Linked DNA regions of Homo sapiens: all the other regions are linked to region 3. Evidence: fine-mapped expression QTL. A gene starts in region 3. Each other region holds a variant in brackets. All regions are shown on one strand. Distances are from middle to middle.

Region 1 (8,185 bases), 35 kb before region 3:
TGATGGTAAGTTGAGTAATGCACAACGTCTTGAGATTCATTATTACTAAAGCAACTGGCAGATCTGAGAATGAATATGAAAGTCAAATAAATGAATGGAGAGTCCTAAAGAAAAAAAATCTTGAATCTTAATGGTAAAATGGTTCTATCAGTTACTTGATAGAACCTAATCTGAGTCCATGGAGATTATTTAATATTTGTCAAATAATATAAATATTAGAGTTTATTTCAAAAAGTGTGTTTCTTTCCATCATTAAAATCTCTGTCTTGCAGTCTGTACATCAACTTATCACTTAGTCATTTTATGGTCTTGAAAGTCACTAAACTAAAATGTGACTGAATATATCCTATTATGAAACATTTTTTATGTCGTAAAAACTTATATGTAAATGCTTAAATAAAAGATTTTGTTAAATTTTTGGGAGCAGTTTTAATTTTATATTTTAGACTTAAAATGTTTTAATTTGCATTTTAATTGTCTCCCATATTGTTGACCATTACTTGTTCTCAGTAGAGACACAACTTGCTTTCTGTTTTGCGGGATTCCCTCTAACTATATGATTTGGTGCCATAGTTAAGCTCCTAGATTCTGGAGCCAGACTCCATGGGTTCATAATCCTGACTTAGTTACTAGCTGTGTGACTCTGAGCGAGTTATTTGACTCTTCTGTGCCTCGATTTCTTACTCTGTAAAATTGGAATGATAATGATAATACATACCATATAGGGTTATTGCAAATATTACATAAACTAATACATTTATAAAGGATACACTTGACATACGAAGTTGAATACAAGTTTTAACTATTACTTAACTTCTGCTAATATTTACTCCAGTTCTGCTCACATTACTTGCTTATTATACATTTCAGAGTGGATGAAATAATTCTGCAAGCCAGTGGGAACAGGAAGCTTCATGAAGAGGAGAAAGGCTTAGGGCTCAGAAACCGCACAGAGCAGGAGGATAGATGAATGTAAGGAACAGAGCTTTGAGGACAGACACCCCTGGATTAGACAATAGCTCCAAAACTTATTAATGATGGTGAATGGGTGACTTTCTAAAACCCTTTAAACCTTATTTGTAAAATGGGACCATCAATATCTATTTTGAAATCTTGTATAAATTTGCAATAATGTCTGTAAAGTATCTGACAGGAGCTCAGAAATGACACAATTCTTTAAATCCACTCACACCCAACTTTTAAACAAAAAGTAGCAGTATATCCTACACACGATTTTTAAATTTTACTATTTAAGTTAACATCATGCTATGAACATATTTCCATGTCATTAAATATTCTATTCCATCCAATATTTAAAAGCTAATAGAAGTCTGTTAAATGCATATGCCATAATTTATTTAACCAATTCGGTTGTTTTAATATTTATGTTGTTTCCAATATATTATGCTATTGACAATAAAATGATGAACATTTATGATGATGAACCTTGGTATTGCCTCTATTATTTTTATTTAGTAAGAGGAATTGCGGGATATATCATGTGTACATTTAATTGTCTTCCAAATGGTTTATACCAGTTACCCTCACAGATGCAATAAATGAGTGTGCCCACTCGCCTGCATCTTCACCAGCATGGACATTACTTTTGTTTACCGTCTCTGCAGACTTAAGTGAAAATGATGTCTCATTGCTTTAACTCTTACTACTTCTTTACTAATGAGTATAAGTTTTTGCATAATTGTTGTGTACTTCTTTTTGTGAACTATCTTGGCTTATTATTCATCTTTTTCTTAATTTATGAAAGCTCTGTTTATTTTTAGGTATATTATAATGCTATGCATTCAAATGCTTTCTGTTATCAGTCTTTATCATTTGTTTGTATTTGTTTCTACTGTTTTTGACATATAGAAGTTTGATATTTTGTGTGTTTATTGCCATGACCTTTTTATTTTATGATTTCAGCCTTCTGTGTTAAGAGTGTCTCTCTTTACTTCTCCCCTCCACCCAATGTTAAAAATATGGATTATAAATTAAAACATAGAATGCTTGACCATTAGCACCCACATCAGGGAAGGTATGAGACCTACCTTCCTTCCTTCCTTCCTTCCTTCCTTCCTTCCTTCCTTCCTTCCTTCCTCTTTCTTTCTCTTCCTTCCTCTTCCTTCCTTCCTCTTTCTCTTCCTTCCTCTTTCTTTCTCTCTTTTCTTTCTTTTTCTTTCTTTCTTTCTCTCTTTCTTTCTTCCTTTCTTTCTTTCTTTTCTTTCTTTCTTTTTCTTTCTTTCTTTCTTCCTTTCCTTTCTTTCCTTTCCTTTCTTTTCTTTTTTCTGATGGTCTCACTACGTTGTCAAGGCTGGTCTGAACTCCTGGCCTCAATTGATCCCCCAGTCTCAGCCTTGGGCTTCCAAACTGCTAGGACTACAGGCTAAATGTGTGATGTATGAAGCTATTTATTACCAATATGGAATAAAAGTTGTCCAAAGCCATATAGTTATTTTTGTAGATGGAACTGGAAGCTGTGATGATTGACTTTTTGTGTCAACTTGACTGGGTCATGGGGTGTCCATATGTTTGGTCACATATTATTCTGAACGTTTCTTTGAGGGTGCTTTTGGATAAGATTAACATTTAAACTGATAGACGGAGTAAGGCAGATTGCCCTCCCTAATCTGGGTGGGCCTCATCTAATCAGTTGAAGGCTTGCATAGAATAAGCTGACCCTGACCCTGACCACCAACTAAGAGAGAATTCCTTCTGCTTGACTGCCTTCAAACTGGAACATTGAATTTTTTTCCTGCCTTTGGACTTGGTCTAAAATAGCAGCTTTTCCTGGCTCTTGAGCCTGCTGATGTTGGACTGGAACTACATCATCAGCTCTCCTGGGTTCCCAGCTTGCTGACTCACCCTGCAGATTTGGGAACTTGTCAGCCTCCATAATCGTGTAAGCCAGTTCCTTGTAATAAAGCTCTTGCTCTGTATCTCTATCATCTCCATCTATCTCTATCTCTACCCCTGTCATCTCCATCTATATCTTTATCCCTCCATCTACCTCTTTCTCATCATCTCCATCTATCTCTATCTGTAGCTCCATCTCTATATATCTCTATTTCTATCTGTCTCTATATATCTCTATCTCTATCTCCATCTATCTCTATCTCTATTTCTATCTCTGTGTCTATCTGTCCCTATATATCTCTATCTCCATCTCTCTCTCTATATATATATTTTCATCTCTCTATCTCCATCTCCATGTCCATCTCTATCTCTATCTTCATCTCTCTATCTTTATCATCTCTATTCTATCTATCTATGTATCTATCATCTATCTATCATCTATCTATCATCTGTCTATCTATCTATCTATCTATCATCTATCTATCTATCATCTATCATCTATCTATCTATCTCCAACTATCTCCTATTGGTTTTGTTTCTCTGGAGAACCCTAATATAGGAGTCCTGAAGGTAAACTTAGCCAAGCAACAAACATAAATTGAGACTGCAATATACCTCTTTAAAACCCAGTTAAGGCATGGCAAAGTTGAAGGCATTGGCCCCGAATGCAAATTGTGTCTTTCGCTAAGTTAAGAGTATTAATATCCATCACACAAGCTTGCTGGGGGCTCAAATTAGATGACATATAAAACATTGGGCAAATTGCTAAAAAAACTTTGTTATTAATTATAACTTTTATCTGAAGCAACTCATAAATGGTGATGACCTTAGCAGAAATATCCTAAGTGACTTTGTAATAATTTTAAAGTGGGAGACCATTACCCCCCACAAACACATACAAACACATACACACACTATGCACATGCTCATTACATACAAATACATAGACATACACAGACTCTGACACATAAACACCTGTTTTGGGAAAAAATAATAAAGCTGACTGTTTAACCGTTAAACATTTTTATTGTGCAGGCTTGTAACCTTTACAGGACATGCATGATAAAAAATTGTAAAATATATCAGTAAGCATATAAAATTTCAGCAATCTTTTGGACCAGTAATTGATTTGCATGAGGGACTAAGCATCTATGTAGAACAGACATGTCTTGGAATACACAGTTTACAGATTGAATCACAAAGCCATTTCCTAAGTGATTTTCTTCATATAAAGATAAAAATATCTTTACATTTAAAAAGTATGCAGTATAGCACATTTTCAGTTATGTACACAGTTTAAAAGTAAAACTATATCCATGCCAGTGTCTGTTTTAAATGCAAAAAGTCAAAGTAGGTAACAGGTTGGTAATTAAAGTGTCAGGAAGACTGGAAGAGGCAAAAATCAAGCAGAGTTCCAATAAGTGTATGAAAAAAAAATCATAACTGAAGGTTTAAGAAAAGTCCCCAAAGGCAGAATCACAATATGAGCAGGAGGAATAAAAAGCTTTTGGATATACCAGGCAGCTTTCTGTACGACTCAGGTTTACAGGTGAAATTCCTCAGTTTGAGTTCAGAAGAATTTGAACTTATTCCAGCAAAATACTTCAATCTTTTTATTACTGCCTCCTCCCCCATCTTCTTTCTGGGCAAAG[G/A]GATGCTTGGATTAGGTCCAAAGCTCCTGGCAGGGGGAGGGGCCATGTGTCACAGCATAACAGACGGTTGCAAGTGCTTTACTGAGCAGGGGTCAGGTTTGCAGCAACTCTGATAGGCTCACACAATGGCCTCCATTTTACAGCCCCTCCTTGGAGGCCCACTGATCAGCTGAAATGGGAACACAATGTTGAGCCACTAAACCACCCCGGTGATGGATTAGTTTGGATTCAGGAAAGCGTGATTATTCTTGAAAATAAACGAAGCTGAATAGACATGCTGACCTCATTCAGTTGATGAGAGGCAGGGAAAGCTGGCTTCCAGGACTGCCAGCCCACAGAGAGCTCAGCCCTATTGGTCCACTTTAATTCATTTCATTGGGCTAGTGTCAACCATACCCACTACGGATAAAGATGTTGCCAGATGAAGCCCAGAAGTGAGCTTCACCAGACTCTGTAGCTCAGAGTCAGAAACACGCATGGAAAACTAGGTCATGGATATTCTAATTTTGGTCTTCAGGGAGGCTGCTGACCTAAAGCGAGTTGCTGAGTTAGACCCTATTTGAAAAGGAAAATGTGAAAAACAGGAAGGCACTGAGGTCTTGTTATCTACATAACAAATATTCAGGCACAGAAAATATCATAGGTTAAAATTTCAAGAAGAGTAAGGCATTAGTTGGATCATGAGAAGGCAGAAGATTATGTTTTCTAACTTGTAAGGATCACTGGATCCTACTGGATTATGAAGTGAATGGCAGTAATCCACTAACTCCTTAAACAGTGGGAAAAGAGTTTGCTGAAAATCTGCCCACATACTTGTACACTCCATGGCCATACCCTGGAATTCTTCCCTTAACATAAAATGACCAACATTTTGGAGTAGGCAGTTGAGGTTGTTGGTTCTTTTCTTTTTTTTTTTTTTCCTCCTCAGTTCTTCATATTTCTCTCAAATTACCTTTCAACAATATGTTCATATCTCAGCCAATAAAGCGATGGTTGATCCACATGCAAATAAAAAGGTAAGGAAAAAAATTTAAATGGGTTTTAAAAATTCAGACTGCCAAAAATAGATGAAATAGCTCAGAAGAGACATAATACTTATGAAAACTGAGAAAGTGATCTTTTTATTTTCAACCAAGATAATTCAATTCATAAATTGTTGCTGTATTAGCAACTTGGAACTTGAAATTGGCACCAGGAAAATTAAAAGGAAAAAAAATCAGGTATACTTCTATCCTTGAAATGTCATTTATATTTCTTTCTGCAAGTTGATGCGGACATTGCTGAATATTTTCCCAACAGCTTCAAAGAGTGGGTCACAGACGGTGTGGACGTAGATGGAATAGACACGGCTGATGCACTGAATCTCAATCAGGAAGCTCTTAATGCATGGTACAACTGCCCAGATGTGCAGGAAAGAGAGAATGGCGAAGTAAATGCCCCAGATGAGTGCCATCGGGATGCCAAAGAGGGCAGACAGCAAGCGGTAAAACCAGTATTTCGTCACAGTGAAGGTGGTGAAGCTGGCCTTCCAAATGCCGTCAAAACTGTGTGTCCCTTCTGGTTCTGCAATCACATCTTCAAAGTCAATCTAAAAGGAAGAAGTGACACAACATGAGCACAGAATAGAAGAAAAGAGAAAAAAAACCCACTATTCAGTATCCATAGACATATACTGTATTAGCATTTATGAGTTCGTTCTTTGTGAGATGCTTAAAGGCAACCAGCAGCATCAGCATCACTTGGAACTTGGGAACACAGATTTTTTTCATTTTTATTTTTTTGAGACAGGGTCTTGCTCTGTCACCCAGGCTGGAGTGCAGTGGCATGATCATGGCTCACTGCAGCTTCGACTTCCCAGGCTCAAGCAATCTGTCTGCCTCAGCCTCTTAAGTAGCTGGGACCACAGGTTCATGCCACCACACTTGGCTAATCCTTTTTTTTTTTTTTTTTAAGAGATGGAGTCTCACGATATTGCCCAGGCTGGTCTTGAACGCCTGAGATCAAGGAATCCACCCACCTTGGCCTTCTGAGGAGTTGGTATAATAGGATGAGCCAATAAGCTGACCTGAAACACAGATATTTGGGTTCCCCTTGGACCTTATTATCTCTCAAGGGTGGAACCCAGGATATTTTTAAACATGTTCTCTAGGTGTTTCTCTACCACACAAAAGGTTGAGAACTACAGCTCTAGAGAAAACCAAATGGATGTGATTAAATTTCTTGACTTAAAGTAAAACCCCCAAACATGGATAAGGATACGAGGCACTCAGTACAATGTAAGGAACATGACATAATTTAACTGCCTTTGAAGACAACTACACATGCAATGTTAAGGGGCAGTTAGTTGATAATCGGTTAACAATTCTTCAAATGCCCAATTAGCATAATTACTTCAGGAAATTAGATCATGGTGTGCTGGGAGGCATCAAGAAGGCTTCATGAGGTGGGAGATTTGAGCAGGGCTTGGGCAATTGGCTGATTTGGAGAGGAAGAACAATGGGACGTTGGAAATGTGTCAAAGCCCCAGGAACAAGCAAGGGTGTCATAGTAAGTGTCTCAGGCAGAATAGACCTGTGTCACCGAGGCTGGAAAGACAGGTTGAGGCCAGACTGAATATTATTTTACAGACAGTGGGGTCTATGGAAGATGTGGGAGCAGGGGAGTGTAGCCACAATCGATGCAGTAGTTTATCAAGATGAGTTTGACAACCGTATGCACACTGGGAGAAGGAGGAAAGAGACTCAAGGCAGGGAGACTGTTGCTGTCACTCAAGTTTGAAGGGCCAGGACTGGAAAGGTGGTCATAAAAAAAAGAAAAGAAAAGAAGGTTCCAGAGATGCTAAGGGAAGAATCCACAGGACTTGGTTAGCTCAAGGGTGGGGATGAAAGGAGCTGGAATGCAAATTTGGCCCCTTTCCCAATAGCTCTCCCAGGTACATGTTCACCCAAACAATTAATTACAGGAAGTTTTATCCCTCTGTAAAGATTTATATAAACTACACTGAAGCACAGGATTAAAAACAGAATTACCAACAGAAAGGTAGGACAGAGCCAGTGCAACTGCTTGGCAGTGACAGCTATAGGAGGGGATTTAATGCAGTTTGAAATCCCAACAAGTGGATGACTGACAGCAGCGACTCAGGCAGGCTCAGGATTAGGGAATGAGGACTGCCATGACTCCACGGAGCTACTCAGTGCCAAAGAGCCACCTTTGATTCAACAAAATAAAATGTCTTCTGGAAAAAGCACATGATGCTTACCAATTTTTAAAGTTTATTTTGTAGAACATTCTGTTTCTTGACTTATTGTCCAATGTTCTAATAATGTAATGTGAAAAAAACGGCATGGCCACAATTATGTAAGTGAGCTTAAGTAGATGTATTGTCACTCATTTTTCTTCACCCATTTGGATCTAGACACAGGGTAAACATTTAGTTGTGTGTTTTAAAAGGTGGCAAATACATGGCAAATCAGGTCAATACTTTTATGAAGTTTCTGTGCAAATTATTTGTCTATTATGGGTTTGTGTTCTGACACTGCATTCTTCCCAAAACTATCAAAAATAAGGGGCTCTGGTTTTCCTGCATTCAACTGCAAGACACCTAAAGAATTTTATTTTTTAAAGATGTCTTTGTTTTGTAAGAGGATTTGAAGGCAGAATTAAAATACTACAGCAGGTGT
Region 2 (8,185 bases), 53 kb before region 3:
TAGGAATGGAGCTTAGACCCCATCCTGCAGGAAGACAGCTGCCCCAGCAGAGGGAGGATGAAAATTATGGCTTTTCCTCTGACTCACTGTGCGACCATGGAAAATTCCTGATTACAAAACATGGAAGAGTCAAAGCTTTTCCCTTGAGAAACATCTCCTGTGTCTCCCACCCTTCTACTCACCCACGTATCTCAAACTGTCTCCTTGGGCAGTATGGAGAGCTGGGACCTCCACAACTGTGAGAGGGGAGCAAGCTACAGACAGCTGGGGTCACTTACTTGGCTGGGAGCCTAGCTTTGGTCGTGGGTGACTGTGTTGGATAATGTAAGTCCAGCTGCTATAACAGATAAACCTTCAAATATTAGTGGCTCACACAATGGAAATTTCTTACGCATGGAAAAGTCCATTAGTGCTGGAGGGTGGGGTAGGCTGTGGGCTGTGGGGGATGGTACTTTCCTATGTGTAGTCTTTTTTTTTTTTTTTTCAGACAGGGTCTTGCTCTGTCCCCCAGGCTGGAGTACAGTGGCACGATCTTGGCTCACAACAACCTATGCTTCCCGGGTTTAAGTGATCCTCATTCCTCAGCCTACCGAGTAGCTGGGATTATAGGCATGAGCCACCATGCTCGGCCTCTGTGTAGCCTTTTGAGGACCCAAGCTGAGAGATGTTGTGTCCTTTCAACATGGGGTTTTCATGGATGCCCTTGGTCTAGATATCCAGCTGACATATAGAGGAAGAGTGTAGAATCACACATGAGATTTTTATCATCCAGGTCCAGAAATGGAGCACACAATTTCTGCTCAGATTCTAGTGCCAGATCTTAGGCACATGGTCACTGCAAGAAAGGCTGGGAAGTGTTGTCTAGCTGTGTGCCCAGGAGGAAAGGTAAAAGATTTTCATGCATAAACTAGCCAGTCTCTGCCTCAGTGGCCAAAGTCCACTTCTCAGCTTGGCTGGTATTAATGTCAAGACCCTGCTATGTCAAGCACAGGTGCTTTTCTTCCAGGAATTGGGAGTCTTGAAGTCAGATGATGAGTTGTACCTGCTTCTAGGAGAGTCTCTTTAGTTTGAAGAGGCCAGTGGCAGAGACATTGAGAATAGGGTTCAGTCTTCTGGGCATTACTTGGAAGAACCAGGCAGTGTTGCAGGATAGGAAGGTCACAGCCAAATGATCTGGGCCCAAACAGGTTCTGATCCTGGGATAAGCCAGAGAGATCTCAGCAACTCCAAGGCAGAAACTAGGTCATGATTCCTTGGCTAATAAAATCAACTGAGAGAGAAGCTGTAGTCTGGGCTCTGGATAAGTGCTCAGGGACAAATGATCTGGATGTGATGTGTACAGTCAAATTCTAGGCCATACCACCTGACGGAGGGGAATCTCTGTGCTCTGCCAGACTTGGTGGAACTAAGCCTCCACTTTCTTCAACTGTTTGGGGTTGAGGAATGCAGAGTCATACACACCTGTTTTCTTTTTCCTTGAATCTGGTAGACATAGTGGTTGAGTCCCTAAGCCAGAAGTCAGAGAGATCTCAGGAACTTTGTGGCCTGTTCCACCACAGATCTAAACCTGTCTTGGTAATTCCATCACATTTGCTTGGTGAGGTAACTTGGCAACCCGTGAGCCATGAGCCCCAGGTGAATCTGTAATTCTATGATTGTTAAGGAAGTGTGGCTCTACCAGTCCCCTGGTAGATCCCTGGAATTGCTCTACATCTATAAGTAACATCTCCCTTAGGTGGGGCATTTACCCGCACAGGATGTGAAGATGCATTAGATTTGACCATCTCAGCTCAGTGAATCCAAGTAACCATAGATCTTTGGCAGATTTTCTTCCCTGTCATGGTGTCAGGGGCCCAGGGAGCAGGACTGATACAACTCAGTTTCCCTTGCCGGGGCAGAAGTGAGAGGAAGGGTCTAAAGCTGTGGGAATGGCAGTCAGCTGTCCCCTTCCCTTCAGCTTCAGGAAATATGAGGCCAGAAGAGGGAAAGTTCAGAAACTGTGCAGGCACTCATGGCACTGCAGAATTTCAGCCTCACTGCTAAATCTGGGAGGGACAAGAAGCAGGCAAAGTTGGATTATGTGGCTAATAGCATAGAGCCAGGGAAACTAACTTGAGGGGCTTCAAATCTGCTAAAATTAGAATTTTCCTTTTAGATCTGTGCAGACTTTGTTCTTATTACAAAGTGGTGGACATTTTGGAACAACCAAGAAAATTTTATGTGCTCTTCACTTGCTACCAAAACTAGTACTAAAACAATACCTGCTTTTCACCCTCAGATACATCTGGGTCTTTAGTCCAGGAAAGAATCACCTCCAAGGTGAGTGTGAGTGGACAAGGATGTAGAGGATGCCCCCAGCCTTTTGGAGGAGTCTCTGTAGGATCAGGCCACCTGAATAGATGCCCTGAGTGCTCTGTTTATTACCTTTGTTCTTTTCAGTATCTGCATGGTGGGGCCCATAGTCTTTTTTCTCTCTGCAGAACAGTGAAAATTTCTCTGTCTTGCTCTGCCCAGGAGCAGGTAGGCCAGAAGTGCCAGAGAATTAACACTCACCATCTTCACCCCCTGCCCCGGCAGCAGCCTTCAACCAACTTGCCACTTGGAAATAAATACTTGTTCTCTTGCCCCTTGGATGGGATAATTCTGCAGCAGGTGCTGTTTCCCCAAGTTTTCCCACCAACATAACCTGACCATGGTAGCAGACTTAATAGTAACCTTATAGCTCCCTTCCCTTCCTTGTATTGCTTTCCTAGTTCCCGCTGATGATACTCCCTATTCTTCTCAAATTAACTGCTTGTGTGCAAATCCTTGCCTTAGGGCCTACTTCTATGACAAGGCTAACTAGGATGTCACTTTTCCAGAAAATAGCCTGGGCTGCATGAGGGAGTCATTCTGATACTTTAAAAATAATGTTTCCCCAGGCAGATGTTTTGGGATCATGATAACATTTACTCTCAACCTTCCTCCCAAGCTATTCTTGATAGACACATGGAAATTTTCAGAAAACCAAATACCTCATGTTCTCACTTATATGTAGGAGCTAAATGATGAGAACACATGGACACATAAAGGGGAACAACACACACTGAGGCCTTTTGGAGGGCAGGAGGTGGGAGGAGGAAGAGGATCAGGAAAAATGTACTAATGGGTACTAGGCTTAATACCAGGCTGATGAAATAACCTGTAAAACAAACCTCCATGACACAAGTTTACCAACGTAACAAACCTGCAGTTGTAACTGTGAACTTAAAATAAAAGTTAAAAAAAATTGCATTAGAACTTTCTTTTACTTTATTTGAGATCCAAAGAAAATTTATCTCCAAATAAATTGTGGTAGTGGTTTATATATTTTTCAAATATTATTTTTTACTAAGAAATATGCTTTACATTGCAACTCAGTATACATACTCTCATAAACATGAAATGTCTTATTAAACTCATCTGATTACCCTTGCTCTCTGTGATCTATATGTTTCTTTCTCCTCTCTTCTCTTTTATTCTTTTCCATTCTATTCAGTTATATTTTTGTTAATAAATGAAAGCCAATTTCACAATTCTAGAATAGGTGCTATGGTCAAAATGTTTGTGTCCCCCTCAGATTCATATGTTGAACTCCTAACCCCCAAGGTGATGATATTAGGAGGTGGGCACTTTGTGAGAAGATTAGTCATGAGGGTAGAACTCTCCTGAATGGGATTAGTGTCCTTATAAAAAAGGCCTTTCTTGTACCCCTTCCTACCACATGAGGACACAGCAGAAAGACCACCTTCTATGAAGAGGCCCATCGCCAGACACTGAATCTGCTGGTGCCTTGATCTTGGACTTCCCAGCCTCCAGAGCTGTGAGCAATGAAGGTCTGCTGTTTATAAGCCAACCAGCTTGTGATATTTTTGTTATAGTAGTTCAAACAGACTAAGACACTAGGTCAGCACTCACAGTTTGAGCAACACTAGATGAAGGAGACACATATTTCACAACAGGTCCGCCAAACAGGATTCTTAAGGAAAGAATGTTCAAAGAGGAGATTTGCAAAACTATTATTTGTTGTCCTTCACAGCTATCATTGCATAGGGCTGATAGCTATGCAGTGACCTTTGTTGTTAGCAACACAATTTATTACCATCCTCTGCTTCTAGAAGAAAGAAAAAAATCGATACATTGCGGGTACTAGGATGTTTAGGCCTCATGTGTGGATTTCTCCAGGTGTCCCCATTCCAGGGAGTAGAAATGCTGTGGGGTCAAATGGAGCAATGAGGTAATTAGAAGATGGGAGGATCTTGAAGGTTTGAAACAGCACTCCGGGGTTTGCACTTGCTGTTAAGAATGGCTCACGTATGTTTTGGTAGTCTGGGAAGACCAGGAGCAGGCTACGCATAAGCGGTGTGCGCACTACAATTTCACACATGTGTGGTTATCTGTAGCTGGCTCTATGGGTTCACCAGAGCCTTATTTGTTTGGCAGACTTAGAGGAAAGACAATGAAGGAATACACTGGACTCTAAGGTTCAGCCCTATATCTGACAAAAGGCAAGAGTTCAAACCTCTTGGCCATCTGGGGGAGAACTCTTCTGAAGAGAAAACAGTATTATTGTATTTTCAAGTAAATTATTTCATATCCTCTAACACTAATAAAGAAATGTGTGTTTGTGTTTTGGAGGACGTCTTAGCGGTGGATAGTTAACTTGTGAAATAGTCGGCTAGGGAATTCATACTTAGGGATCCTCAGCCAGCATTTGAACGACCCTAATCAGCTGTCCTATTATAGCTTTATCTCCAATGAACACAAAAAAGCCTGTTAGTTAGCATAGGGGATGCTAAAATAAGTTTCCATGGATGAAACGAGTGGTGATTAAGATATGTGAATATGCTGGAAATATTATGTAAGCAATTCCTTCCTTCTGTAAACAACAGGGAGTAAGAATCTGGAGAGAGCTCCACAGCCTACCCTCTTCATAGGGCTCTTCTCGGACCAGGGCTTCATTCAATAGCTCAACAGAGAATCCTGTGGCTCAACTTCTGATCAGAAGTTTAGCTGAAACTTTCACCAGAATACTGATACATCTGCTTTGAGTGGCCGTTTCG[C/T]GCATGCTGTTGCCTGGGATTTCACTGCTCTTATTGTGTCAGGTTAGCTAGTTGATTTGAGTATTTGAACATGTGGCATCTTTGGTCAAATGTGCTTTCAATATAACTCATCACCCAGTAATGAGATTGTTGGGGAGGAGGATTATAGTTCTCACCTGTTCCTAGCTGCTGGTGGTGATCAATATCTGCCAGAGTAACTTAAAACTCGTGAACAGCCAAATTTGCTTAAGTCAGGTCTATTCACTTGATCTGAGGTAATTGCTTGAGGGTTAGTTAAGGAGAAACACTGGTTTTTGAACACAACCCTGTGAGTGTAACTGGACTTGTCTCCTACTCAGCCCTCGCAGTTCTATGGGGGTGGGGGCTGTGATAAAGGGTGAGTCACAAAGTCACACAGACCTCCCTATGGTCTGTGTAAAAAATGTGGCATGGAAGGCAGCCCTGCACAGTTATTAAGTGGGCAGGATGATTTTTCTTTCAAACACAGGATGTGAGTAATATTACATTTCTTTCCTTTCTCTAAATAAATTTAATATGCTCCAAGCCTCCAATCGGCCTCACTGGTGCGAAGGTCAAGCTTTGTCTGGATGGTTCTCCTCTTGGTGCCATGTGAATGCCCTGTTATTTGATCCCCAAAGATCATAGCTGACATGCTCAGTGTTCAAAGCTGTACTATTCTTTAAGGATGGAGGCTCTGCTGGTGCTGCCATTGTGGGGCACTAGGGTTATTGCCAAGTCTAGGAGCCCAGTGCTCATGTTCCAGCCTCTTTAGGAACACTAGGTGGCTGTTTCTTGCTGAGATCCCATCACATCTTAGGGCGCTGGAAGGGATCAGAGCACAGGCTCCTAGTGCTGTGGAGTCCCCCTACTTTGGTGTCTTATCAATCTTGGATGCTCTCCAAATTACTTTCTGGTCTTGCTTTTTCCATTCCTTCTATTTCTGAAAGAATCCCATATAATCACTCTTCAGGAAGTGATTTAGAAACACAATGTGAACTCTTCTCCTTGGAGTGGTGGCTGGAAAAATAACATGCCAACACTAGCTACAAACACAGTCCCTACAATGTAACCTACTTATGCTGACAGCCACATTCAGTGAGATAGGTGAGAGGAATCGTTGTAGAATTGTCACTGGAAACTGCCCAGTAAGCGAGATATGACCTTCTGAGATATGAAGTGGCAGAGAGAAAAAATGGAAATCTTCTTAGAGTGGAAGAAAATAATTTTTTGGGCACGTGTATGTCTTTAACTGTGCAAGAAAACATATATTCAATTATTTGTTAATAACAGCACCATTACTATGATAATAGTTATTTAAAATAATTTGAAGTAACGTATTTTAATAATAATCTGTATTTGCTTAGCATTAGATGTTTTCATGCCAGTTATCTCATTTGCTTTTGACAACATCCTGGTAAGGAGGCATGGCACATAGGATTTCCCCATTTTGCCACTAAGAAAAGTCAAGCACTTTGCATGTTAATTGAACCTCAAAGCCAATCAGTTAGTAGACAGTTGAGTGTAGCTAGTACCCAAGTCCATTGGTTTTCCACTTGACTACTCTGCCCTAAGCAGTAAGATGTGGAGTGAAAATATGGCTTATAGATGACTTAATCTTAAGTGGTTACTTTGAAGTACATCTTTCAAGTTAGCCATAAAAGACTTTCCTCACAATATCCAATGAATGACCGAATTGCTTTTCCTGTAGACTACCTATTTAAACTCAACTTGGCCAAGTAAATATTGCATGCTTGCAGCACTCTGCAGCTGAAAGCAGTTTGGCGGGAAGTAGGTTTGTGGAGGGATTAGGTATGTGTAGTCATTCATTCATTTATTCATTCATAAACATTAAAATAGCAACTACTGAAAGCCACACATCAGCCTAGATTCCAGTGCTACTCTTTTTTTTTTTTTTGAGATGGGGTCTCGCTCTGTTTCCCACACTGGAGTGCTGTGGTGCGATCATGGCTCACTAGCCTCGACCTCCCAGACCCGGGTGATCCTCCACAGGCCTGTGCCATCACACCTGGATAATTTACTTTTTTTTTTTTTGTAGAAACTGGGTCTTTCTACATTGCCCAGGCTGGTCTTGAAATCTTGGGCTCAAGTGATCCTCCCGTCTTGGCCTTCCAAAATGTTGGGATTATGGGCGTGAGCCACCACACTTGGCGTCCAGTGCTGCTCTGTCTGACATAGTAGCCATGAGCTACAAGGGGTGATTTTAATTGAAATTAAATCAGAAATGCATTTTTTCACCTCACTAGCCATATTTCAAGCACTCAATTGCCGCAAGTGGCCAATGGCTCTTATTGAATAGTGTTTACATAGACTCTTAAAGGAAGAACATTTCTTTAAGAACTTTCCTTTTCCTAGAACAGAAATAAAGCATTTCCCTTATTGCAGAAAGTTCTGTTGGATAGCAGAGCTGCAGAGTTATAAAGATACAAAGGACTAGACTTGGTCCCTCCATTTTGAGAACTTACAATTATTGCATGCCTATGACAGAACTTAGAATACATCATGGAAATTCTATAACAGGGTATCAGTTTTAGTTTAGCAGATTTTTATTATGCCAGTCACTATGCTAAATCCTATAGATACAATGAAAGCTAAAAATTGGTCTCTGAACCCCAGTAGTTTACAGTTCAGTGGAGATAAGAAAAAAGTGCCTCAAGGCCTTAGGGACCAGAGTAATTCTGCCTGGGAAAGTTACAAGAGGAAAACACAGTCATAAGTATTTCTTCTGCCTTCTCTACCAATGTACATGCCTTGTTTTTTTTTTTTTTGAACAACACAGAAAATACTTTAACAACTGTATCATGTAATAAGTAATTATTATAATTTTGCATTGGCATTCTCAAAGCACTGGGCTCCCTTTGCTCTATTTTATAAATGAGCCTGGACCATAGGATGAGAACTGTGACAACTTCTGAATTCACTTGGCAACATTAATCATAGGGCAGGCAATTAGACCTCATGCCAGTGATGTTTCTCAGTGCAGCCTCACTCCCTACCATGGGCAAAGTGAAGAAGACATTTAAATCTCCTAATGGTCCCACAGTTATAAGGGTGCCCAGTAGTGATCTTTTATTGAAACTTCTGGC
Region 3 (8,185 bases):
TACCTGTGTGCATGTCGTCTCACTAACTGTAATCTTTGTGATTGCTAGGATTTATTGTAGGAATTACATAGCAAAGCATCTAATCTAGCATATTGCATGGGTTTAATAAATAAATTAATTGATGGCTAATTTTATCAGAATTATAGATTTGAAGCCATTTTATTTATCTAGAAAATCAAAATAAGTACATAATAAACATGTGAATAACAATGTGAACAAAAGATGACACAGAAATCTCAGAGGGAGAATGAAGGGTTTGAGTTTGTGACCACTTTAATTAAAGGAAATTTTAAAAAGTATTCACAAGCTACTTAATATTTTTGGGTAAATGTCTATATTTGGGTAAATTGTCTCATAATGTGGAGCAGCAAGCTTTTAGTAAGATGAGAAATTAATTTTATTGGAACTGGATTGTATACTATAATGTGTGTCATTATTACTAGTAAAATAGGTAATAATGCTGCACCTTCTTGAATATAAACTCATGCCACACATGAGTTTTCTTTCCTCTCCAGAAATGAAACTGGGGTTTCATTTCTTCTCTAGAGTTTTGTTGTTGTTTTCTTTAACTTGGCAAGGGGATGCTTTTACAATGCAGAGAACACCCTAATCTGGCACTGTCCAATAGAGATTTCTGTGCTGATGGAAATGTTCTATGTCTGTGCCACTAGCTTTACCTGTTGCACACTCACAACGTGGCTAGTGTGACTAAGGAACTGAATTTTAAATTTTACTTGATATTAATTACTTGAAATTTAAATGGAAACACAAATGGCTAGTGATTACCATATTGGACAGAGCAGCTTTTACAGGGCTGCTTGCTTTTAGGACCAACTTTTCCTTACTTGATTGGGTACCTTTAACAGTAGATTCCATTGGCCACTGGTTCTTTCTTATTATGTGAAGTTTTAAGCTACCATGCATTAGCAGTAAAGCTTTGGGTGCTTTTAAGAAGCACCCAAAATTATTGTCATGATTTTTTTAAGAAGTCTGTGTTGTTGGCCAGGTGTAGTGGCTCACATCTGTAATCCCAACACTTTGGGAGGCCAAGACCAGTGGATCACTTGAGGTCAGGAGTTCAAGACCAGCCTGGCCAACATGGTGAAACCCCGTCTCCACTAAAAATACAAATATTAACCCGGCATGGTGGCGTGCACTTGTAGTCCCAGCTACTCAGGAGGCTGAGACAGAAGAATTGCTTGAACCTGGGAGGTGGAGGTTGCAGTGATCCCAGATCATGCCACTGCACTCCAGCCTGGGTGACAGAGTGAGACTCCGTCTCAAAAAATAAATAAATAAATAAATAAAAATAAAAATAAAAAAAGTCTATGTTGTTGAAAGTAAAATTTAGGGAAATTTATTATTTACTGTCATGGAAACTGGGAGAGAATCATCCCTGTTTCTGTTATTTTGTTTGTGCTTGGACTTGAGGATACATATTTATAAAATAGGAGTCTCCATAAGATGTAGATAGGACCCTGTTCATCGGCCAGGCACTCTTTGGGCAGAATTTGCATTTGTAGTCTTGGTGTCTCTCTGTAGGGCATTCTCTGAAGTCCCCTCTAGGCCAGGCATCTGAGTGAGACTGCCAAATTCTTTTCTAGGTGGATTTTTTGGTTTGACTGTCTTGTTTTGCTCACAGTTCTATGAGCAAGTAGTCAGGGTTTGGTTTCTTTAGGCTAGCAGGAGCTTGCTCTAGCTTTTTCTTTTAATTTCTTTAATTTGAGGATCCCCACACTTGCTCTTTGAAATGCTGTTTTGTAAACTGCTATTTCCTCCAAGCCTGTTATGTTTTTTTTCCATCTGTGTTGAAGTCTCTTTTCCCAGTGGGGCCTTTCTTTCTCAACTTAGTCATGCTATGTGTGGAGACCCACATCCACACTGTTGGCCTCTCTGACTCATCCCGGGAGATTCGCTTGCTCCAGGGAATCTCACTCACAGTGCAGTGGAACAACAGGGAGGATCCAGTGAAGCCAGCCCTCTCTGAAATCTGCCTCTTTTCCTGGCAACTCTCCTTCTTGTTCAAAGCCACATGAGAAGGGTGGGGGTGGGGGAAAACACAAATATCCTCTCCCTTTAAGGTAATGTTTTTAGTAAATAGTTTTTTAGCAATTCTATTTTCTAGTTTATAAGGTACTTTTGTTGCTGTTGCTTTTAAATATTCCATAATCCAGCTAGTCAAAAAAAGCTGCAAATGCTCCAATTTTCCTTTTTCCTACTCCAGGAAGCCAAGGGAGTCAATTCTGACAGTTTTTTTTTCCCTTCCAGTTACAGATTAAACTGTTTCCCCTTTTGAAATATATTATTCATGAATGTAAACGGTTTGTGAACTATAGCTCCTCCCATCCATAGATAGCAGGCGTGGTGGGTGGAAATTGCTCATCCGCCTCATTGATTGCTGGGGGTTGTATAGGAGTAGATCTTCACACTGCAGTCCCTGAGCCAGGATTTTTCCTTAGCCCTCCATTTCTCAGAGAAAACCCTTTGCCAAGGATGGCTCTAGCCCATGATATCCCAATCCAGATGTGTTTAGGCAATAAATTCCTCCCACTAGATTGGCTAAAAGGGTCAAAATCTAATAACAATGATAATTTAAAACTGACCACTGAGTCAGATCTAAGTCTGGCCAATAACCCAGTCCAATTATTTTTAATCTCACCAAGCACATCCTGAAAGTATGAAAAGGAACTCCAACCTGAATGTGCCATTAGCTCAGGGCAGGCTGACCCAGGTAGCTACTAAAGAAGCAGCTTTCCACATCTAAGTGCAGGTGTCCATAGATAGAAGAAACCAAGAGGCATACATTGTTTTTGGTTTTGTAAATTTGCTTAGTTGTGCACAAGTGACTTGTTAGTCTAGTTAAAGTAACTTTCATATGTATATGAATAAGTACGTATTTTCTTTGTCTTTAGTCCTAGGCATTTCCATCCACTGTAGTATTTTTAAGAAAATCACTTCCCATCGTTTTAGTTGGGGGAACATGCCCATCTTGTATTCTGACTCATCCTCAGCACAAGACCTGACACAATTATCTGACTGTCTTAATGCCACGTGCAGTGGGGACCTGTCACTAGACTTTCAACCTGGGAATGGATAGGAACCATCTCACCGTCCCAAGGAGTATGGGCCGTCTGTTGCTGAGGTCAATAGGCTCATTTGCTAGGATAAAAGTGTAGTTATAGGAACTTCTACAAAACTCACTTTAGCTGAATTTCAGCTGAACTAACTATTGGGGGGAGATGGGGGAAGGGAGATGTAACGTTTCTGCCGACTGCGGGAGCTCCCACACATCAAACCCACAAAACTCTGTGTGTGTGTGTGTGTGCGCGTGTAGGGGGCGGGGTGGGGTGTGCGTACACGGCAATGCTAAAGAAGGATGCACGGGCTAACTGCCAGAGGAGAGCTGTCCCAGCCCTTCCCTGTTGGTCGCCTTGGCTTACCTTGACCACGTCATCGTTGAGGTGTTTAGGGTCGCGGTTGACCAGGTCGATCTCCTTGGTGTGCGCGTCGTACACTTGCTTCTCGCTCAGCTCGTCTGCCATGGCCTTGTTGTTGGGCTTGTAGATGTTGCCCTGTTCCCGGATGGGAACGGTGTAGAGATGTCCCTGCAGAGGGCGGAGGGCGGACGGCCAGGACGGGGAGGGCGGCAACGGCGGTGGGAGGAAAAATGCAAAAAGAAAAACAAGCGATGAGAAGTCAGCCTGGCGGCGGGGGAAACCTCGAGCTCGAAATCGAACTAACCGCTCCGACAGCTACGGCTCCGTGCACAGAAACCGCCTGCGCGTAGCCAGCTTTTTAAGAGGATCTCGCAGAGGACACCACACCCCTCTGTACTCTGCAGGGCGCGCCTGCCTCCCCCGCCCGCCGCCAGGGGTCAGGGCAGGCCCCGCCGCGCGGTCCGAAGGCCCCCGCCCGCGCACGCCCCGGCTCAGCACGCAGGACCCGCAGGACCCGCAGGACCTCGGCGGCGAGGGGGCAGCCGCAGGCTTCTCCCGGACTCCCTAAGCCGAGTCGCTCTCGCCCTGAGCGCTTCACCTGTTTCGCGTTCCCGTCCCCGGTCCCTATTACCCCTGCCCCGGTAATCCCTTCCAGCTTTATCTAAGATCCAACAGCAGCCGCCCGACCCGTGGAATGTTCCCTTTATCGCTGCTTCTTGGCCGCATCCCCCTCGCACCTGCCCGCGCCCCCCACCCTGCCTCGGCCCTCTCTTGTCCCTCCACGGCTCTCCCTGCTCAATCCGCCGTGATGATCACAATCCCGAAAGTCCCCATTTTTGGCGGAGCCAGGCACCAGACCCCCTAAATGTCCTAGAACTCAGTCTCACCTGCGCAGCTCCCCCGACCCACCCTCAGGGCACTCCCAGGCTGCGGGCGGGTGGCTGAAGGGCAGCTACGTGTTGGAAGACGAGGTTTCCACACCCGGGCAGAGCTCCAGCGCGTGGAGGGCGTTGGAAGTGATGGTGGCAGTTTGGGGAGGGGAGGTCTACCTCTCTCGGAACACCCCTGCCAGACGCCAAGATGCAGAAGGAGTTCTTGAGATGGTTCAAGAACTTTGGAAAGTGCAAACACACCGCGCGCCGCCTGCGGGACCTGCCGGTCTGGGCGCCTGGCGGAGAGTCCCGGGGACTGTCCCCAGGACTCGGGTAAATAACACCTCCACCCTGCACTCCACCTCTTCGAACCCCCAGCAGGCAGGGCCGGACCGCGGGGGTCCCGCGACAAGGGAGCATCCTAGACCCATCCAGAAAACGCGTCCTGGGCCCAACAGACCCAATCTCAGGACCCCAATCCCCTTTTCCGTGTCCTCCTAGCTCAGGGGCTCCCTAGGCCCCCTCTCCATTAGGAAAACATAAAACATTCCTGGCTTCTCTTCACCTCCCCGCCCAGGCCCATTCCTCAGCGGTGCCAACGCCAGAGGAGTGCTCCGAAGTGGAGAGAGGGCTGGGGCCAGGGCAGCAGTCGGGATATTTGGAGAGGCAGATAGCAGAAGCGGACACTCCCCGCACGCCCGAGCCGGCGCCCCCCCACGGATGCCTACCTCCGAGTCTACGTATTTGCCCCCAGACATGCTGGCCCGTGGCTGGATGAAAACTGTGAGGAGGTTTCCCTGGGCTGTGCTTTAAGGGAACTGAGGAAGGAAGATCTTGTATTGTATGGGGGGAAAAAAAGGCGCTGGAGGGGGGCGGTGGCTGGGAGGGAGCCTCCTGGCCGCCCGCCAAAGGTTTGTTCTGCTCGCGGTTGGCCCGGACGTGTGCTGCGCCGGGTCTAGGCACATCCCCAAGGTTCTGGCAGCAGAGGGCGGGGAGCGCCCGCAGCGAGCAGAGAGCGAGTGAGAACGTTTCTCCCGCGCTGGGGTGCTTGGGCAGATTATTTTAAACCTGAGGCAACATTTTCCCTGCTCTGAACCACCGAGAGGCGTCCCGGGGAGAGCGAATGTTTTCGCAGTGCATCATCTCAGCAGGGGTGGAGGGAGCCGACGCGCCTGCAGAGATGCCCAGTATGGGCAACCAAGGCGGCAGAAACAATCCACAATCCTGCCCTGTCCTAAGCCGTCCCTTCCCACCTCCCCCACCCCCCGCCCATCGCCCAAGTTCCATCTCTGCCTTAAAACACATGTGTCTCCCTGTTTCACAGAGGGAGGGATGAAAGACGGCTAGGAACCTTTAGGTACATTTCACATCTAAACTTTGTGGATCCCTTATGGAAGGAATCTGTGTGGGTGCCTGTGGTGTACTTTTGGTGACACTCGTTTACATCTAGTCGGTGTGGATGGAAACTTAAGCAGGCATGCAGAATTTAACATTTCCCATCCGTTTCTGAAATGTCTCCCAAACGCTTCGAAATAAGAAATGAAGATCTTTAACTTTTCTATAATTTTATTACCGATATTTTCTGGAACAATGGAATTTTATGCCAACAGGTTATGCCATATTTGCAAAATACACAAAATGTTTATAATTGTAGAATTATTTAAAGCTTCAAGTTTATTACCAGAGAAGATTTTTTTTTAATGTGCTTGGCTGTGAGGAAAGATTTGACTTTTCTAATTGACTAGACTTAAAAAAAATGTGATAGCGATTAAAGTATTTTGTCTGTTCCTGAATCTGGGGCTTCTGTCTTTACTTTATTGTAAAGAAGCACAAAATGAATTAAATAGTAATCAGTCATTTTACTCTTGAGCTGTAATTAATCAGGAAACTCATTATCCAAAAATGAAAGGACATGTTACTTATGCTTCCATATGCAGTCAAAAGTCAAAGTATCACTTGAAATTATTTTAAAAAAAAAGCTGGAGTACACTTGAAGGGGCACAGGTTAAAATTAAAATGGAGAGGGGAATGTGGGTTGGGAGTAAGAGGGAGGAGAAAGGGAAATGGATGGAATGCTGAAAGAGTTGATTATTTAGTTAGAGAGAAGACACAAAAGTATAAAAGAACTATAAAGGACAGGCTATTGTTGGTAGCAAAAATTTTTGGAACAAAAGATCAGTTTTAACTAAGAATGGCAGGGAAAGTGTCACAATGTTACAAATGTTGGCATGCCTGTAATTATGTTGGCCATTCATGATTAGCAGACTAAAGATCTTTCAAAAGTTGGATTTTCCCAAATACCACATTAGTGGGAGCTAAATGATGAGAACTCATGGAAACAAATAGGGAAAAAACAGGCACTGGGGCCCACTTGAGGGGTGGAGCGTCGGGGAGGGAGAGGAGCAGAAAAATAACTATTGGGGAGTAGGCTTTGTAGCTGGGTGATGAAATAATCTGTACAACGAATCCCTGTGACACAAAATTTAACAAACCTGCACATGTACTCTTGAACCTAAAATAAAAGTTAAAAAATTTGGAATGCTTTAAAATAAGCTTATTTATGAGTAAACAAATAATTAGGGTCTTCCTTCCTTCCTTCCTTCCTTCCTTCCTTCCTTTCTTTTCTTTCTTTCTTTCTTTCTTTCTTTCTTTCTTTCTTTCTTTCTTTCTTTCCTTCCTTCCTTCCTTCCTTCCTTCCTTCCTTCCTTCCTTCCTTCCTTCCTTCCTTCCTTCCTTCTTTCCTTCCTTCCTTCCTTTTCTTTTTTTCTTTTCTTTCTGACAGGGTGTCCTCTGTCACCCAAGCTGGAATGCAGTGGTGCATTCATAGGTCACTGCAGCCTGGACCTCTTGGGCCCAAGTGATCCACTTCAGTTTCCTGATAGAATGCTGAAACTATAGGTGTGCACCACCACACCCTGCTAATATTTTTAAAAAGTGTTTGTAGAGACGGGGGTCTCACTCTGTTACCCTGTCTGGTCTCAAACTCCTGGCCTCAAGCAATCCTCTTGCCCTAGTCTCCTAATGTGTTGGGATTACAGGCGTGAGCCACTACAACTGGCCAAAAAGTTGCGTTTTCTTAATTTCATTTCTGTCAGATTGCATTTCTAAATTCTTTGAACAAATTATATTAACAAATATTAACAAACACAATACACTAGAAAAGGACTGTCAGGTTCAATATGTTCTATAGTACCTAGCCCACCTCTAATGACTGCCATAAATTCATTTAATTTTTCCTTCATACAAGTCAACTGGGGTTACGTTCTATGGAAAAATGTGGAAACCACTTCCCATCTATTGTTATTCAGTCTTCAGCTGTGATGAGTAATGTTAACTGTGAAAAAAGTCAACAGGAACACAGAGGGAGCTTGTCCTGCATTCCAGCAAGAAAAGGACTTTCCAGGGAGGCCTTTAAGTGAACGCTTAACTAGTACTCAACCGAGGGAAAGCAATCTCGCTGGGAAAGTCCATGTAGAAAAGTCTAATCAACAGCAACACATGGAATCATAATGATCAGTGAAGCGTTGTCAATGCCAAAATGCATTCCTAATGAGAGGAAAAACCACAATCTCTTCATTAACCTGCCTCAACAAGAAGCTGGCACCAAAGAGAAACACATCTTAGTCTGGTTATAATAGCTGACTTAGGGAAACTGCTCTCGATTTATGAGAAATAAAAGGAGAAGAAGAACATTGTTAGCATAGGTACAAAATTGGAAATGAATAGATGATATAAGCAAAATTGTTTTTGTTTGATTCTCACACAGGTAACTTTGGGCTTGGAGGCGAGTTAATAACTTTCTCCAAATCATTTACTTAAAAAATGAGTATTTGGCAATTCATTTGCCCTCTAATATTTTTCTTTTTTGGAAGCAGC

Alleles and levels. Alleles are on the strand shown, and positions count from the first base shown. SD is a standard deviation of normalised expression in the study named. Not every link is listed here.
For the expression in lymphoblastoid cells of the gene that starts at base 5,094 in region 3, allele T in region 2 goes with a higher level than allele C (moderate effect, 0.48 SD a copy in GEUVADIS).

What was found. PIP is the estimated chance that this variant, and not a neighbour inherited with it, causes the effect.
Region 1: its variant is the best candidate, but not a certain one, in a credible set for the expression of CAV1 in subcutaneous fat (TwinsUK, PIP 0.84).
Region 2: its variant is the best candidate, but not a certain one, in a credible set for the expression of CAV1 in lymphoblastoid cells (GEUVADIS, PIP 0.67).

Annotation. Positions count from the first base shown.
Region 1 is chr7:116,556,854-116,565,038 of GRCh38, reverse strand. It overlaps CAV1 (caveolin 1), which reads right to left. Exons shown (of 3, transcript NM_001753.5): 3 at 3,860-6,093. The coding sequence ends at 5,752. It overlaps COMETT (cytosolic oncogenic antisense to MET transcript), which reads left to right. Exons shown (of 5, transcript NR_165033.1): 5 at 871-1,445. Among named protein-coding and RNA genes, the nearest start is that of CAV1, 36 kb to the right of the region's middle. The variant G/A (reference allele first, on the strand shown) is at 4,506.
Region 2 is chr7:116,574,500-116,582,684 of GRCh38, reverse strand. The region is part of intron 2 of COMETT (cytosolic oncogenic antisense to MET transcript); the gene reads left to right. Among named protein-coding and RNA genes, the nearest start is that of CAV1, 54 kb to the right of the region's middle. RefSeq lists silencers at 1,105-1,554, 5,078-5,217 and an enhancer at 5,356-5,650. The variant C/T (reference allele first, on the strand shown) is at 5,082.
Region 3 is chr7:116,521,945-116,530,129 of GRCh38, reverse strand. It overlaps CAV1 (caveolin 1), which reads right to left and starts at 5,094. Exons shown (of 3, transcript NM_001753.5): 1 at 5,038-5,094; 2 at 3,441-3,605. The coding sequence starts at 5,067. RefSeq lists silencers at 3,393-3,492, 3,723-4,112, 6,521-6,815 and an enhancer at 6,741-7,381.